2 separate regions of the Homo sapiens genome follow, and region 2 is linked to region 1. The links come from fine-mapping of genetic effects on gene expression. A gene starts in region 1. The other region holds a variant in brackets. All regions are shown on one strand. Distances are from middle to middle.

Region 1 (5,298 bases):
CCATCGATAGACCCGCCCCCATTGATAGCCCCGCCCCATACAGCTATCAGCCCGTCCCCGATCCAGGGCATCCTTCTCACTGGATTCTCCCTCCTTCCCCAAGGCCCCTCACCTCTGCGCCCAGTCCCTTCCCCTGCAGCCTCTCTCTCTAGACTTCGGAGCCTCTGCTTCCCCGCCCCGCTTCCCCAGCTTTCTTCTCCCTCCCGGGGCCGCCCCCTCCTCACTGACCAGCTTCCTGGGATCTCACTGCAGCAGAGCGCTGAGGCCCAGCAGCACAATCAGCAGCTGGGGCGCCGCAGCGGAGCTGGAGTCCTGGGAGCTGGGGTAGTACTTCTTGTCCGCGATTCTCACGCTTAAGACCTGGTTTTCTCTTCTGCGGTACAGATGGCAAATCAGGCATCTGCTCGTCCTGGCTCCTGCCGCCCTCCCTGTAAGCCCACCGCCCCCGGGAGTTCCCCCCGCACCGCCCCAATCCAAGTCACCGGGGAGGGAATGGACAGCGGCCACCCATGGCTCTGTGACCCTAGGGGCTAAGTTATCCTTTTGTGGGACTCAAACTTTATCCCTTGGGGCAATGGGGATTTTGGGAGCAAAGGAGATCCTGGGTCTTGGGCTAGGGATGTGGGGGTGAGAGGAATGTGGCAGGTGGAGGGTAGCGGGGGAAGGCTATCTCTGACCTCAGTCGCTCCACCTCTGCAGACGCGTCCTGAAGCTTATGGTTTAATGTAGTGATCTCTCCTGGTAGGGTGGGAGGACAGAAACAGGGGGCGGGTCAGCATGTGGCCATGCTGGGGCCCTGCTCCACTCTGGGACAGAACCTCCCCCTTACCCCAACCTCCAGCCCTGGTCTCCCTGCCCCCACCCCCTCTTCCATACCTGACTCACCCCTCCCCGGCCCTCTCCCTTCTCCCTTTCTCACCCTCAAGCTCCTCCACTTTCTTTTGTCCTTGGGCCTTCTCTGCATCCAGGGAAGCCATTAGGGCCATCTAAGAAGAGTTAGAATCTGGGGTTTTGGCCTGGGGAGTTTGGCTGCTGCCCCTGGGACCTGGGCCTCCTCCCTAGGTCCTGGGGACAGAGGGGCTTAAATGCAAACCCCTTTCAGGTTTTCTTCCAACCCTCTCTGCACCATGGTCTCCAACCTTAAAGAACAGCCACAACCACACACTCTCCCAGGGCCACCCATAAGCATGTGGGTCCTCAAAATGGGAGTTTTGAGGCCACCCCACGTGGAAACTTGGAGGCTATCGATAACCAAAGTTTAGTGGACATTTCCAGATTGCCTGAGCAATGGCCCAAGAAAAGTTAGAGGGCCCTACCAAATCCAGAATGCAGTGGGATTTCCCCGCCCAAGTGACATGCCCAGCGAGAGTTTCAAGATCCCCCATATCAGGACCCAGGTGAATATTTCAGTTTCTTAGGGATGAAGTGAAAATTTCAAAAGCCCCCTTTTTCAGGGTCTGGTGAGGTCCCCCTTCAACCCTGAATAGGGATTTCTACTCCCCCAGGACTGGTGCCCACGAGGAGTTTCAAGGCCCCCGACACCAGTGCCCTGGAAAGAATTTATAAATTCACCTAAGTCCCAGGGGGATACTGAGGTCCCCGATTTGGGGGATCTGGAGAGTTTTAACACCCTGCCCCTACACCAGTGCCCTGGACTGGGTTAGGGGCCCACAAACCCTGGTAGGGGAACCTAGGTCCCTTGATGTGGGGGCCCAGGAGCAGTTTCAGGACCTCCCCTGCATCTCCCTGGAGACCCACCCTGGGTCAGATTTCTGGGGAGAGATTCTTGTCCCTCCCACCGCCTAGTACTAGGCCATCCAAAGGAGTTGAGGAGCTTACCACAGTGTGGTTGCAGGTGGCGGCCTGGGCCTCCACATCCTGAAAGCCCTTCTGGGCCTCGGTCAGCTCTTGTTGCAGGAGATGGGTGACATTGCGACACTCCATCACTGCCCGAAGGCCGTCCCGGCAGGCCTCGCTGTTGGCCTTGATGGTGAAGATAATCAAGGGCACCCCCAGAATCACGATGATCAGGAGCACCAGAATTCCTATCCCCAGCAGAAGCTTACAGCGCTTATCCCCGTCTTCCATGGGCACTCTGCAATAGTCATACGAAGTAGATGCCATCCAGATCTCCCCTTTAGAGTCTGGCCTGGAGTTAGGGGAGGGTGCTGGAATCTTCTACGGGCCACCCCTTTATTAGCATAGGAAACGTCCTGACCAATAGCAAGTTCCAGGAAGTGCTCTGACCAGCAGCTCTTGCATGAGGCACCTACAGGCAGAGGATTAATTAGGTTTTCAGTTTCAGTTTCCCAGAAAGGAGGTGGGCTTTTTTTTCACCCTGCTTTAAAAGCCCTTGGGCCCTTCCCAGCTGGGTGCCAGCCAACTGTGGCTGCCTGGGACACTCCATCTTAAGTCCCTGTGCCTCTGCTGTGTGTTACTGAGTGCCTAGGCCGTGCCAGCCTGTATTCATCTGTACTATGACCTGAAGAGGCAGAGGCCATCACTGTTGGTCCGGTCTCCACCTGGGGAAACTGAGGTTGCACAGTTGCGTGGTGGAGTGAGGGCAGGGCCTGGGTCTGGGGGCGGGGCCTGGGTCTGACCCCAGGGACTGGTTTTTGTGTTCAGGTGTCTCTGTGGTGACGAGCAGGGCTTCATCCAGTGCCTCTGTCCCCACCGAGGGGACTATGGGAGACATGGAGGGTGTGTGAGCAACAGGTGAGACTGGAGCCAGCTGAAAACTGGGAGACCGACCCAGCCAACAAACAATGTCGGTCTCTGTCTTGGCACCTGCAGGAAACAAGCTCCTACTTCCAGAAAAAGTGCTCCTGGGACTCCAGGATACCAGGTAAACTCTCTGAGCCTGTTTCTTCATCTGCAAAGGGGAATAACAGGGCCAGCCTCAGACACTGTCCATGTGGCCAAGAGAGCCAGGGCTTCCTACAGGAAATCAGGCCCATTATCGGCACCCAACTGCTGGGCATGACCGCTGAAAGGGGACTGCATGTTTTTCTTGTGGCTTCTTCAGCCACATCCTGACCACAGCCCAGATTCTGTTAGGTCTGCCATTTCCATGTTTTTTTTTCTTTTCAGCAGGGCCAGACAGTAGGCGAGGTCAAGTCCAGAGCCCAGGCCTCCCAGAAGGCCTGGGGAACTCCCCCCAGGCCCTGACTCCAACATCCCTCAGAAGGACCCCATTAAAGCCACTTAGAGCCAGGCATGGTGGTACATGCCTGTGGTCCCAGGCTGAGGCTGGGAGGCTGAGGCAGGAGGATCACTCGAGCCCAGGAGTTTGAGGCTGCAGCGAGCTATGATTGTGCCACGGCACTCAAGCCTGGGTGATAGAGTGGGATCCCATCTCTTAAACCAATAAACAAAAAAATCACTTAGAACCAAGAACCAATTAACAAGCTGTGGGAGATGATCTTGCTGAAAATTCTGAGGGTGAACTTGTCCCAGGAGGAGGGACCTACCAGCCTGGCCAGGACTCCAGGTGCAAAGACACGACCTTTGCCTGACTTATTTGACTAAGCTGACTTATTTGAGCAGCACTGTTCTGGCCTGCTAACTTTAGGGTTAGTTTGGGACCAGGTCGGAAATCACAATTGCATGAATTGCACATTGGAGGCCAGGGTGGTGCACCTCTGGGCAAATGAATTTCCTCTCTTAGCATTGATTTCCCCAGCTGTAAAATGTGGATAATAATAGATTGATGTCCTCTCTAAATTTTGCAGCTGTAAACAGTCCCAGCCCTGCAAACCGAAAGTTTGTTGCTCTTCCCTTTAAAATTACTGTAGGGACCAGCCCCACAGGGTCAGTGGGTCTCTCCCTGTGTGCGGCGACGAGAGAGTGTAGAAATAAAGACACAAGACGAAGAGATAAAAGAAAAGACAGCTGGGCCCGGGGGACCACTACCAGCAATGCGCGGAGACTGGTAGTGGCCCCGAATGTCTGGCTGTGCTGTTATTTATTGGATACAAAGCAAAAGGGGCAGGGTAAAGAGTGTGAGTCATCTCCAATGATAGGTAAGGTCACGTGGGTCACGTGTCCACTGGACAGGGGGCCCTTCCCTGCCTGGCAGCCGAGGCAGAGAGAGAGAGAGGGGACAGACAGAAAGACAGCTTATGCCATTATTTCTGCATATCAGAGACTTTTAGTACTTTCACTAAATGACTACTGCTATCTAGAAGGCAGAGCCAGGTGTACAGGATGGAACATGAAGGCGGACTAGGAGCGTGACCACTGAAGCACAGCATCACAGGGAGACGGTTAGGCTGCCAGATAACCGCGGGCGAGCCTGACTGATGTCAGGCCCTCCACAAGAGGTGGAGGAGCAGAGTCTTCTCCAAACTCCCCCAGGGAAAAGGAGCCTCCCTTTCCCGGTCTGCTAAGTAGTGGGTGTTGTTCCTTGACACTTTTCGCTACCGCTAGACCACTGTCCGCTCGGGCAACGGGCGTCTTCCCAGACGCTGGCGTCACCGCTAGACCAAGGAGCCCTTCTGCTGGCCCTGTCCGGGCATAACAGAAGGCTTGCACTCTTGTCTTCTGGTCACACCTCACTATGTCCCCTCAGCTCCTATCTCTGTATGGCCTGGTTTTTCCTAGGTTATGATTGTAGACCGAGGATTATTATACTATTGGGATAAAGAGTAATTACTACAAACTAATGATTAATGATATTCATATATCTCTAAGATCTATATTTGGTATAACTATTCTTGTTTTATATTTTATTATACTGGAACAGCTCGTGTCCTCAGTCTCTTGCCTTGGCACCTGGGTGGCTTGCCGCCCACAATTACAAATGGTGGGATGGGTGCAGTGGCTCATGCCTGCAATCCTAGTACTTTGGGAGGCTGAGATGGGAAGATTGCTTGAGGCCAGTAGTTCGAGACCAGCCTGGTCAACATAGAGAGATCCTATCCCTATTTAAAAATAAATATATATATATATTTTAAGTACATATATTTATTTTATTTTGTTTTAATTAATTAATTAATTAATTAATTTTTTTTGAGATGGAGTCTCGCTCTTGTTGCCCAGGCTGGAGTGCAGTGGCACGATCTTGGCTCACTGCAACCTCTGCCTCCGGAGTTCAAGCGATTCCCCTGCCTCAGCCTCCTGAGTAGCTGGGATTACAGGCGCCCACCGCCATGCCTGGCTTATTTTTGTACTTTTAGTAGAGACAGGGTTTTGCCATGTTGACCAGGCTGGTCTTGAACTCCTGACCTCAGGTGATCTGTCTGACTCAGCCTCCCAAAGTGCTGGGATTACAGGCGTGAGCCACTGCACCTGGCCTAT
Region 2 (5,443 bases), 24 kb before region 1:
AGGGGTACTCCAGGGTGGTGCTCAGTGAGGCGAGTGTAGAGTTGAGAAGAAGGAAGTTCCCAGGGGTGGGCAGGAAACCCATGTCTGACCTTTGACCTTTGCAGCTACCCGGTGGTTCCTGATCCTGATTCCGGACCCTTCCCAGCGGCGTCGTCGGCGGCTGCTAGTGGGGGAAGGAGGGCTGGGGGCTGCCACGGGTGCCCAACCAGCCATTTCTCTGGGTTGGCCAGACCCACCCAGAGCCCCCCAGAGCTGGGCAGGAGGAGAACATCCTCCGTAATGGGGGCAATGTAGTCTGAGTGAACCCAGCATTACAGTTTAGAGTTCTGGAGTTGAGTTCTGACTGTGCCACCTACCAGCTTTGTGGCCTTGGAGAAGTGACTTTCCCTCCCTGGGCCTCAGTTTTCTCCTGTCCGAAGTGGAGATAGCCAGGTGCAGTGGCTCACACCTGTAATCCCAGCAGTTAGGGAGGCAGAGGTGGGAGAATCGTTGGAGCCCACAAGTTCAAGACCCTGTTCTAAAAAAAAAAAAACCCAAAAAACAAAAACAAAACAAAAATCAAGTGAAGACAACATAGCCAGTTTTTTTTGTTTTTTTTTTTTGTTTTTTTTTTTTTTTTTTGAGATGGAGTCTGGCACTGTTCCCCAGGCTGGAGTGCAGTGGCACTATCTTGGCTCACCACAGCCTCTGCCTCCTGGGTTCAAGGGATTCTCCTGCCTCAGCCTCCTGAGTAGCTGGGACTACAGGCACGCGCCAGCATGCCTGGCTAATTTTTTGTATTTTTAGTAGAGACAGGGTTTCACCAGGCTGGTCTCAAACTCCTGACCTCGTGATCCGCCTGCGTCGGCCTCCCAAAGTGCTCGGATTACAGGCGTGAGCTACCTCACCTGGCCAACAACATAGCCAGTTTTGAAGTACTTGACGTCATGCCTGGAACATACTCAGTCTTAATAAATGATGGCCTTTTTTTTTTGAGACAGAGTCTTGCTCTATTGCTCAGGATGGAGTGCAGTGGTGCGATCTCGGCTCACTGCAACCTCTGCCTCCAGAGTTCAAGCAATTCTCCTGCCTCAGCCTCCCAAGTAGCTGGGATTACAGATGTGCAGCACTACTGCTCAGCTAATTTTTGTATTTTTAGTAGAGACGGGGTTCCACCATGTTGACCAGGCTGGTCACAAACTCCTGACCTCAGGTGATCCACCTGCCTTGGACTCCCAAAGTGCTGAGATTACAGAATGAACCACCGCACCGGGCAATGATGGCATTTTTTAAGATGTGAGGGCTGGATCATGCCTGGCCTCTGATGTCAGGCTGAGGAACTCAGACATAGGGGAGGGGCAGTATTCCCAGCTGCCGGTGCCCCAGGCCTGTGAGAGCACTGGGGAAAGGAGAGCATGATGGGGATGAAGTGTGGGTGACCAGGGTCCAGCAGAGGAGCTGAGGCTGGGTGCAGTGTCTGGGCCAATGCCAGTAGATGTGGGTCTTGGTGTACACTTAAGATCTTGGCTGTTCTTCATTGTATATAGAAGATGTTGCATCTATGTATGTATGAATGTGATACCAGTTGACAAGGAAAAATAAAGGCAACCTCAAACTCCCAGAAAACAAAAAGCCCCCCGGACCTGATGGTACTGATGTGCCACAATTTTGAACAGTTGTCACCATGTGAGAAGCAGAGTTTTAAATATACATACCAATGTTATTTGTATCAAGCCCAAAAACAATATTTGGTGTCCTTTTCTAATTTGATCTCACACCTTTAATTTGTAATGTTTCTGTTTTGGATCATTTGTTATATTAGCTGATTTAACTTTGTAACTTTTTGTTTGTTTGTTTTGAGGCAGAGTTTTCTCTTGTCGTCCAGGCTGGCATGCAATGGCATGATCTTGGCTCACTGCAACCTCCACCTCTGGGTTCAAGTGATTCTCCTGCCTCAGCCTCCTGAGTAGCTGGGATTACAGGTGCACACCACCATGCCTAGCTAATTTTTTTTTTTTTTTTGGTATTTTTTAGTACAGATGGGCTTTCGCCATGTTGGCCAGGCTGGTGTCGAACTCCTGACCACAGGTGATCCACCCACCTCATCCTCCCAAATTGCTGGGATTACAGGCGTGAGCCACCACGCCAGGCCTGATTTTTTTTTTTTTTTTTTTTTTTTTTTTTTTTTTTTTTTTTTTAGCAAAAAGGGTAGGCTGGGGGTCGTGGCTCACACCTGTAATCCCAGCACTTTGGGAGGTCGAGGCGGGTAGATCACGAGGTCAGGAGTTCGAGACCAGCCTGGCCAATATGGTGAAACCCCATCTCTACT[A/G]AAAATACAAAAATTAGCTAGATATGGTGGCGGATGCCAGTACTCCCAGCTACACGGGAGGCTGAGGCAGAAGAATTGCTTGAACCTGGGAGGTGGAGGTTGCAGTGAGCCCAGATCGTGCCACTGCACTCTAGCCTGGGCTACAGAGTGAGACTCCATCTCAAAAAAAAAAAAAAAAAAAAAGGTAAAGATAGACCTTCCTCTTTTTGCACAGTATTATGTCTTTGAGATTCATTGACTCCTATGGCTGGCTGTTTAGGTTTTCACCAGATACAGTACCATAAAATTATGAATGGACACTTAGATTTTTTCTGAGTTAGTTTTTCAATAAATAAAAGAAGATTTAAAATCAAATTTCCTGGCTGGGTGCGGTGGCTCACATCTGTAATCCAAAGCACTTTGGAAAGCCAAGGCAGGCGGATCACTTGAGTCCAGGAGTTTGAGACCAGCCTGGGCAACATGTTGAAATCCCATCTCTTCAAAAAATACAAAAATTAGCCGGGTGTGGTAGTCCCAGCTACTTGGGAGGCTGAGGCAGAGAATTGCTTGAATCCAGGAGGCACAGGTTGCAGTGAGCCGAGATCACACCACTGCACTCCAGCCTGGGTGACAGAGTGAGACCCGGTCTCAAAAAAAAAAAAAAAAAAAAAAAGAAAGAAAGAAAGAAAGAAAGAAAGAAAGAAAATCAAATTTCCAGAAATGAATGAAATTACTGGGTCTCAAAGTGGGCACATTTTTACATTTTGATAGTTGTCACCAATTTGTCCTTCAAAGAGGTTGTTTTCATTGACATCTTTGCCTGCGATGTCTGAAATCTCCAAACATGGACTTTATGAAAATGTTCTGTTTGTGTCCTTGGCCAGAAAAATCTGGAGGGAGAATGTGAGTGCCTGATCAAGAATCTACATGAAGTCAAATGCATCAGCCCTGATGTGAGTGTTGGGTTTTTTCCTGAAAACAATTTGTCATGTTCACAGGAAATTTTGCACATGAATCCCTTCAAATTCCCTTGGAGGGGCATCAGAAAATCAGGCTTGCTTTTTAAACCCTTTTGTTTTTCTAAACAGAAAACAATTGATTTGGTTTCATTTGTTTGTTTGAGTGGAGAAGGAAAAACTGTCATGAGGAAGTCAACTCTGTGTCACTCCCTGAAAACTGACACTGAAGTCCTCATGGAGACACGAGTTAAAAAAAAACAAAATCACTCAGAACTTCAGGAAGGTCCTTGAGGAAGTGATATTTCTGGTGAAGAAGGATTTCAGTGAAGTTCAGAAAACCTTCCACTATTTTGTTTTTTTTTTTTTGAGACGGAGTGTTGCGCTGTTGCCCAGGCTGGAGTGCAGTGGCACGATCTTGGCTCACTGCAAGCTCCGCCTCCTTCCGGGTTCATGCCATTCTCCTGCTTCAGCCTCTAGAGTAGCTGGGGACTACAGGCTAATTTTTTGTGCCTTTAGTAGAGATGGGGTTTCACCGTGTTAGCCAGGATGGTCTCGATCTCCTGACCTCGTGATCCACCCACCTCGGCCTCCCAAAGTGCTAGGATTACAGGCGTGAGCCCCTGCGCCTGGCTTTTTTTTTTCTTTTTCTTTTTTTGTTTTTTTTGAGACGGAGTCTCGCTCTGTCGCCCAGGCTGGAGTGCAGTGGCGCCATTTCGGCTCACTGCAACCTCTGTCTCCCAGGTTAGAGCAATTCTGGCTCAGCCTCCTAAGTAGATGGGACTACAGGTACACACTACCACCCCCGGCTAATTGTTATATTTTTAATAGAGACTGGGTTTCACCATATTGGACAGACTGGTCTTGAACTCCTGACCTCAAGTGATCCTCCTAACTCAGCCTCCCAAAATGCTGGGATTACAGGCATTAGCCACTGCACCGGGCCAACCCTCCACTTTTATGTCTGTGAGTTTGGTTTTTGGTTAATCGAAGTGAAGTTAAGTTTTGTGCTTTTGGAGGTGACGGAGGCAGCGAAGAGAGTCCCTCTGTGGGGTGGGGGAAACCTGTGCTCTCTGGGACTCTGTGTTCCCTGCTGAAAAACAGGGACCTAGGCTGGGCGTGGTGGCTCACGCCTGTAATCCCAGCACTTTGGGAGGCTGAGGCAGGCAGATCACCTGAGGCCAGGAGTTTGAGACCACCCTGACCAACATGGAGAAACCCCGTCTCTACTAAAAATACAAAACTAGCCAAGTGTCCTGGCGCATGCCTGTAATCCCAGCACTGGGGAGGCTGAGGCAGAAGAATCGCTTAAACCCGGGAGGTGGAGGTTGCAGTGAGCTGAGACTGCGCCATTGCACTCCAGCCTGGGCAACAACAGTGAAACTCGGTGTCATAAATAAATAAATAAATAAAAAGAAAAACAGGGACCTACTTCCTTGCCTGTGACTGGAGGGCTGGAAAGGTCAGGTTGCAACTAGCCCATGTCCCCTCCTGCCAAGGCCACTGTGGGCTTTCCATTTTTGTCCCCTACCCCTGTCCCTCCAGCTATGGGAGGGGAGGTCCAGTGTGGCCACGGATAGGGATTACCCAGGATGGTGCCCTGGAGACAGGGGTAGACAGACAGAGATAACCAGAGACAGAAAGACACTTAAAGAGATGACCAGCAGAGGGCGGGTGCTGTTGCTCACGCCTGTAATCCCAGCACTTTGGGAGGCCGATGCAGGTGAATCACCTGAGGTCAGGAGTTCGAAACCAGCCTGGCCCAACATGGTGAAACCCTGTCTCCACTAAAAATAAAAATATTGGCCAGGCGCAGTGGCTCACACCTGTAATCCCAGCACTTGGAGGCCGAGGCGGGCGGATCATGAGGTCAGGAGTTCAAGACCAGCCTGGCCAACATGGCGAAACCCCATCTCTACTAAAAAAAATACAAAAATTAGCTAGGTGTGGTGGCACGTGCCTGTAATCCCTTGGGAGTCTACTTGGGAGGCTGAGGCAGGAGAATCACTTGAACCCAGGAGGCGGAGGTTGCAGTGAGCCGAGACCACGCCACTGCACTCCAGCCTGGCGACAGAGCGAGACTCCGTCTCAAAAAAAAAAAAAAAAAAAATTAGCCCAGTGTAGTGGCACGTGCCTGTAATTCCAGCTACTTGGGAAGGTGAGGCAGGAGAATCATTTGAACCAGGGAGGTGGAGGTTGC

What was found.
Region 2: its variant is fine-mapped to the expression of BST2 in whole blood (TOPMed, PIP above 0.99).

Annotation. Positions count from the first base shown.
Region 1 is chr19:17,403,452-17,408,749 of GRCh38, forward strand. BST2 (bone marrow stromal cell antigen 2) reads right to left here and starts at 2,179. Exons shown (of 5, transcript NM_004335.4): 1 at 1,840-2,179; 2 at 920-986; 3 at 678-738; 4 at 229-373. The coding sequence starts at 2,124. The coding sequence ends at 244. It overlaps BISPR (BST2 interferon stimulated positive regulator), which reads left to right and starts at 2,235. Exons shown (of 4, transcript NR_130766.1): 1 at 2,235-2,320; 2 at 2,626-2,845. It also overlaps a transcript of MVB12A not described here. RefSeq lists enhancers at 1,358-2,096, 2,081-2,140, 2,211-2,590, 2,781-2,840, 2,891-2,940 and 2 more.
Region 2 is chr19:17,379,324-17,384,766 of GRCh38, forward strand. LOC105372298 (a long non-coding RNA gene) reads right to left here and starts at 449. Exons shown (of 3, transcript XR_936362.3): 1 at 357-449; 2 at 90-163. RefSeq lists an enhancer at 1-725. The variant A/G (reference allele first, on the strand shown) is at 2,309.